2 linked regions of the Homo sapiens genome follow. The protein of the gene in region 1 purifies or fractionates together with the protein of each later gene. This does not show direct contact. Each region holds a gene or a part of one and is shown on either strand. Other genes may lie near its edges.

Evidence for each region.
Region 2: the proteins of SOS2 (region 1) and ZNF326 purify together in Homo sapiens (affinity purification with mass spectrometry, with the first as the bait; one large-scale study listed by BioGRID). This does not show direct contact.

Annotation. Positions count from the first base shown.
Region 1 is NC_000014.9:50,148,067-50,151,722, forward strand, and holds part of SOS2 (son of sevenless homolog 2), read right to left. Parts: intron 2,165-3,656; coding exon 1,942-2,164; intron 1-1,941.
Region 2 is NC_000001.11:89,998,016-90,001,671, forward strand, and holds part of ZNF326 (DBIRD complex subunit ZNF326), read left to right. Parts: intron 1-94; coding exon 95-139; intron 140-3,656. UniProt on the Homo sapiens protein: Core component of the DBIRD complex, a multiprotein complex that acts at the interface between core mRNP particles and RNA polymerase II (RNAPII) and integrates transcript elongation with the regulation of alternative splicing: the DBIRD complex affects local transcript elongation rates and alternative splicing of a large set of exons embedded in (A + T)-rich DNA regions.

The DNA.
Region 1 (3,656 bases):
TAACAGTTTCTGAAATGTTTTCTTAAAGTGGCTCTATTATTTCACCAGAAATTTAGTTTACAAAGCTGGGTGCAGTGGCTCATGCCTGTAATCCCAGCACTTTGGGAGGCTGAGGTGGGTGGATCACTGGAGGTAAGGAGTTCGTGACCACTGTGGCCAACATGGTGAAACCCCATCTCTACTAAAAATATAAAAAAGCCGGGCATGGTGGCACACACCTGTAATCCCAGCTACTCGGGAGGTTGAGGCATGAGAATCACTTGAACTTGGGAGGCACAGGTTGCAGTGAGCCGAGATTGCACAACTGCACTCCAGCCTGGGTGACAGAGCAAGACACCATCTCAAAAAAAAAAAAAAAAAAAAATTTAGTTTACAAATGAAGTCAGTATTAGGTATTTTTCTATGTCCTGAAAGTAGGTCCACATGAAGTGAAGTGCTTTTTTTCTGATGTCCATTCATGTAAAACAATTACATTGTGAGAAAAAACATGATGCAGTACTATTTGCTTTTTTTACCTCAAGTAACAAGTCCCTTCATTTCTACGTATCACAAATCCCACAACATAAACAAAGCTACCTGGATTCTAAATTACTTAAAATATAACATAACATTTTGAGTCAGATGTTGACAACTTCTGGTGGGTGCGCTAAAAGTCTGGTTCTGAATGGCATGGCCAGTGCAAACTAGGCAAATTCTAAAGAACATAAAGTAAACATAATGTAGTAAAGGTACCTTACTATATTACCTATTAGCACTAAATTTTATATATTCTTGCTTTTCCCTGTGTAATCTTTATTTAAAAATTGGCTGCTAATCAGGATAACTCCATGAAAATATTTTTATTTTAGAGATAGGGTCTCACTCTGTCACTCAAGCTGGAGTGCAGTGGCACAATCTTGGCTCACTGCAGCCTCGACCTTAAGTGACCTTCCCACCTCAGCCTCCTGGGCAACTGGGACTACAGGGGCACTACAGGCACGAGCCACCATGCCTGGCTATTTTTTGTAGTTTTTGTATGACGGAGTTTGCCATGTTGCTCAGGCTGGTCTTGAACTCCTGGTCTCAAGCGATCTGCCCACCTTGGCCTCCTAAGTGCTGGGATTACAGGCATGAGCCATCATACCCAGCCAAGCACATTTATATTTTAAATTGAGGCTTCTATACTACTCACAATAGCTATGATATGGAATCAACAGATTAATGAATAAAGAAAATGTGGTATATATACACAGTGGAACACTATTCGGCCATAAAAAAAGAATGAAAGCCTGTCGTTCAAGGCAACATGGATGAGCCCGGAGGACCTTATGTTAAGCAAAATAAATCAGACACAGAAAGAAAAATATAACATGTTCCCACTCATATATGAAAACTAAAAAAAAAATGAACTCATGGAAGTAGAGAGTAGAACTGCAGGTATTAGTGGCTGGGAAGGATTGGGAGGAGGGGAAAACAGAGAGGTTGGTGTAGAAAAAGTTTTTGATGGAATGATAATGATAGTGACATTTTTCGACAGAGAGCTGTTACATGCAAGGCCTGTACCCTTCGCAACAGCCTGAGCTGTAAATGAGAAAAGAAAACCCATCTCACACAATATTCTATTCACTTAGCTGCTAAGGGCCTAGCATCCATACTAACTGACTTGACTGACTGACCTCAAACTAAACCAAGGTGAGAAGGTATTAGGAGTTGAAGAGGGGTGGTGGACTTGAAAATCTTCCTGCCATTCCTCTTGTAATGGATTGCTAGTCCCCAGTCTAGACATAAGACTTTTACTTGCAGGGCAGACTAGTTAAAAACTGTGCTATGACCTTTCCTCTAAGCCCATGAGAGTAGATGAGGTATTTTTAAGCACTCATGAATAATGTGCAAAATGTTTTGAAAATAGGTAATGTTCAAGATTCTTAAAAATAAAGCAAGACATTAACATTAATTGTCTACCTGTAAAGATCAGACTCCAAAAGTGTCAGCTGACGTGCAATTTCTATTGGATGAAGTGTCATGAGATCAAATGTTTCAAACTGTCCTGGTTTGCTGATATGCCATTCAATTGGTGGAGGTGGACTTTCAAAGGTAATATTATGGCTTACTCCGTTTGCCTGAGCTTGCTTCTTCCTCCTGATGATCTTAGCAATTGACTCTACCCATTTTTTCATAGCTTTCCCTGGAAAAAGAACACATAAAGAAAAATGTCTTTTACTTGACAGACATGACTGCAAATCTTCATTTAATCCTTAACTTTCACCCAGCCTCAACAGTTACCAACTCATGGCCAATTTTTATTTTCTCTAACCCTACTCATGCCATCCCGTCACTTCCTAGGTTATTCTGAAACAAATCCGAGACATCGTATTTCATTCATATTTAAGCACCTTTAAAACACTCTTTAAAGTAATAACCACAACACCATTATCACACATAAAACTGACAACTTCTTAATACATTGTTATCTTGAAGTATTTTGTCACTGTTCACATTTCTCTCTCTGATTATTTTCCTTTTTTTTTTTTTTTGAGACAGGGTCTTGCTCTGTGGCCCAGGTTGGAGTGCAGTGGCGCAATCTCAACTTATTGCAACTTCCATGTTGCGGGCTCAAGTGATCCTCCCACCTCAGCCTCCCAAGTAGCTGGGACTGCACATATCACCACGCCTGGCTAATTTTTGTATTTTTTTTGAAATGGAGTCCCACTTTGTCACCCAGGCTGGAGAATAATGGCGTGATCTCGGCTCACTGCAACCTCCACCTCCCGGGTTCAAGCGATTCTCCTGCCTCAGCCTCCTGAGTAGCTAGGATTATAGGTGCACACTACCATGCTTGGCTAATTTTGTTGTATTTTTAGTACAGACAGGGTTTCACCATGTTGGCCAGGCTGGTCTCGAACTCCTGACCTCGTGATCTGCCTGCCTTGGCCTCTCAAAGTGCTGGGATTACAGGCGTGAGCCACCGCGCCTGGCCTAATTTTTGTATTTTTAGTAGAAATAGGGTTTATCCATGTTGCCCAAGCTGGTCTTGAACTCCTGGGCTCAAGTGATCTGCCTGCCTTGGCCTCCCAAAGTGTTGGGATTACAGGCATGAGCCACTGTGCCTGGCCATATTTTCTTATATTTAGTTTGAAAAGGGATCTGAACAAGATTGCACATATTGCACTGAGTCAATGTGTCTCAAGTCTCCTTTAATCTACAGGTTACTGCTTTATTGCATATTTTTGCTTGCACTTTGTGGAAGAAATTGTCATTTGCCATGTTTTTCTGTCCTCTATATTTTCTGTAAAGCAGAGATATAGTGACTTGGTCTGATTCAGGATTAATTTTATGACACAAATACTTGCCAAGAATACTTCTAACAGGAGGCATATAATGTCTAGTTAACTTTTTGTGATAGTACCCATCCAGTCATGATAATTCCCTAGGTTTATTATTTTACTAGGACCTGAGAAATGTGATATTCTACCATTCCTTCTTCACTTACTAGCTGAAATACTTCCACAAAAATAAACTTTTCCTCATGAACTATTTGGTTATTCTGAAGTATAACTAGTATAGAAAAGAACTTTGGACATTAACATAACCATTTACTTAATTTATTCTAATGTGTGTGTGTATTTTAGAAGCTTCTTAGATTGTGTCTAATCCAGTATTCTCATTTAGAATATAAA
Region 2 (3,656 bases), on another chromosome or scaffold:
TAAAAATTGTGCTTGTTTTTTACTGGATCGGCATATAATTTTGAATTATTGCTAATATCACACTAATTCCTTTTTGTTAAATGTGTCTTCATAGATTACACACACTCCGCCTGCAGGAATACTTATCAGGGCTTTAATGGTAAGTATCCTCTTTCAGCTTTTCTCTTCATGCGCATAAAAATATAGTATCAATGTAAAAGGCCAGTTCTACCTATTTCAGTCCTTGTTTTGGTTCTTGATATATCATTTATGTGTTAATATTGTCTTACTATATATAGTATTTGAATTGGGGAATGTGCTATCAGAAAATGTTAGGGGTTATTCACATTAGTTTGATTTTTTTTTTGGTCCATTTTGTTTGAATTATGATTATTTTAATGTGTTCCAAAGGGCCTAACTACATTCTGAGTGATGAATCACAAGACACTGGCTGAGTTATTTTGGTTGAATTAGAGGCTTTGGTATTGAGTAATGTAGACTAAGTGGATTATTGGCTTGGTTCTATATAGCTTGTATTGTAATGCATTTTGACCTTGTTTTTGAGGTCATTTTCTTCAGTGTGTCCAAATGTGTTAGTATATAAAGAGCTGTCTAGAGGAGCACATGAAGAAGCTTGATTGTTTATTGACATGAGCATGACATTAGACTTGTGACTATAGAACTAGATAGAATCATGAGAGGTATGTAGAATACAATTGGATGTCATTTTGATAGTTATTAGAGTTAGGGCCCTGCCACACAAGATAATAATACAAAAAAAGAACACAGAACAATTAATGCAGGTTAAAAAACATATGAAGGACTTGAGGCATTAAATATCATGATTGCCAGAGAAATGTAAAATCCAACTTTCGTACAGAATAGAATATATTCACAAAGTAAAACTGAAGCAAATGTATACTAAAGACTATGCCATTTATGGGAATAATTACTGAACAGTTAATTTTTATTTCATTATCTTTAAAGATTAAGATAAACTTTGGATTTCATGTGGGCTAAAAAGGCTTAACATATAGGGAGTTAGTACTGAAGAATGTATTTGTGAGCTGGAAATTGAAAATTACCAAAGGAAGTTTAATTTGCATCCACATGTAAGTTATATTGAAAACTGGAAAATTAACGAGAAAGCCATTTCATAAGTTTTGATATAAAGATTTTAAGGCCTTGAACTTGGGAGGTGATAGTAGTAGTAATCTTAAAAATAAAGAGCAAATTAGCAGAACTTGCAGGCTGACTAGTAATGGGTAGAAAATTGAGAGGGTTGAATAAAAATGAATCCAGGATTTTAAACTGGAATGTATGACTAGTGCTTTTACAAGGGAGAGGGGGAGGGGAAGAGGGAGGGGGAGAGGGAGAGAGTTTGTAATGATAAAAGGCCATCTAGGATTTACTGGATAGTTGGATTTAATGTCTAAACATAGGACTTGAAATGCAGACTCATGCAGGGCCAGATGTTTATTTATTAATTAGTATACAGTGTTGCAAAAAGATCTAATATGACTTTTATTTTTTCTCTTAATTTTAGTTATAACTGGTTCTCATCTGAGGGTGATTGTTGGAATCTCTTGGGGAGCTTTTTCAAAGTCTCTCTTTTCACACATAGCCTATACCTCTTGAATCTTAATTTCAGGGCAAGTGGTCTTTGGCTGTGTATGTTGTGCAAAACTACTCTGAATGATTTTGGAAGGCACCTCTGATTAAAGACCAATGCTTGACAGTACTTCTAGGTCTAGATTATCTATATTTTACAAATGAGGAACTTAATTTCAGGGATTCAATTTGACTTTGTTCAGCAAATATTTATTTAGTGCCTGCTGGGCATCAGATATCGTTCTAGGAGGTGGGAATATAGCAGTGAACAAAATGGACAAATATTCCTGCCTTTGTGAGGCTTTCCGTCTAGTGGGATGAAATAGTAAACAAGATAAGAAATAATATATATGTCATAATTTAGTCCACAGGGGAAAAAGGGAGTAATATTTATTGTATGTTAGATGATGATCATTGCGAGGGAGAGTAACATAGAGAAGGAGGATAAATGTGTGTGTGTGCTTGTATGTGTTGCAATTTTAGAGTCTCTGGGGAAAGACTCACCAAAAAGATGACATTTGAGCATAGATTTAAGATGAGTGAGTATGCAAGCCATGAAGCCATTTAGAAGAAGACTTACGGGCTTTAAGAAATAAACAGTGTGTAGGTACCAAAAAGCCAAAAATATATTTTATTGTTAGCACTGTATTTTCTAGGAAGTGAAATGAAGTAGAAGGCATTGGAAAACATGGCAAGATACAGATTTTCCCCACACTATTTCTTGGAAGGAAAATGTATTTCCAGTGTCTCCATGTTTTCCTTCTTGCTTCATAATACCTTTTACATAAATAGCATATAGAAAAGGGGAGAGAAAAGGGTGTGGTAGCTCATGCCTATAATCCTAGTGCTTTGGGAGCCTGAGGTAGGAGCACTGCTTGAGGCCAGGTGATTGAAACTAGCTTGGGCAACATAGTGAGACCCTGTCTCTACAAAAAAATTTTTTAAAAACATTAGCCAGGCGTGGTGGTGCCCCCCTATAGTTCCAGTTACTCCAGAGGCTGAGATGGGAGGATCGATTGAGCCCAGGAGGTGGAGGCTGCAGTGAGCTATGATTGTGCCACTGCAGTCCAGCATGGGTGACAGAGCAAGACCTTAACGCTGGCTTGACTAGAACAGATGATTTTTTGCTGAGCAATCTTAAGACAAGGTTAGAGTGGTGAGGTGGAGCCAGAAAGCATTGAAAATCAAAGATAATTTGCTTATATATCAGAAGCAATACAAGTGAAGACCTGAAAAAGTTGAGGGAGTAAACAGTGCAGGTTCAGGGGAATGAGCATTCCAGGCAGAGGGAACAGCAGCTGCTAAAATGGGTATACACCTTGTGTTCTAGAGACATCAAGGGGCCTGGTGTTGTAGTAGTGGAGTGAACAGGGGTGTATGTAATTGATAATGAAGTTAAGAGGTGATGGGGCATATCATGTAGGGCAGGGTTTCTCAAATTTCTTACATTTTGGACTGGGTAATTTTTTGTTGTAGGGGGATGTCCTGTGCATTGTGGAACATTTAGCAGCCTCCTTGGCCTCTATAATATGCCAGATGTCAGTAGCATCTGCCCCCTAGTTGTGACAACCAAAAATGTTTCAGACATTGCCAATGTCCCCAGGGGGTGCAAAATCTCCCCTAGTTAAGAACCACTGGTATAGGTTCTTAGATGTTATTTTAAGCTTTGGCTTTTACTTGGAATAAGAGGAACCCATTGGAGGTTACTGAGCATTGAACATGATTGAACTTAACATTTTGTCAGAATTATTGTGGCTGTTGTCTTCAGAAAAAACAGCAAAGGAGCAAAAGTGGAGCAGGAAAACCAGTTAGGAGACTTTTGCAATAACCTAGGTGGTAGATGTTGGTATCTTGTAGTAGGGTGCTGGTAGTGTAGAGTTGCTAAAAAGTAGTCCCACTCAAGACTTAATGTCACATAGTTAGTTATTTTGGTCATAGGTCAGTTTTTAATTTTTTTTTTTTTTTGAGGTGGAGTTTCTCTCTTGTCGCCCAGGCTAGAGTGCAATGGTGTGATCTCAGCTCACTGCAACTTCCGCCTCCTGGGTTCAAGCAATTCTTTTGCCTCA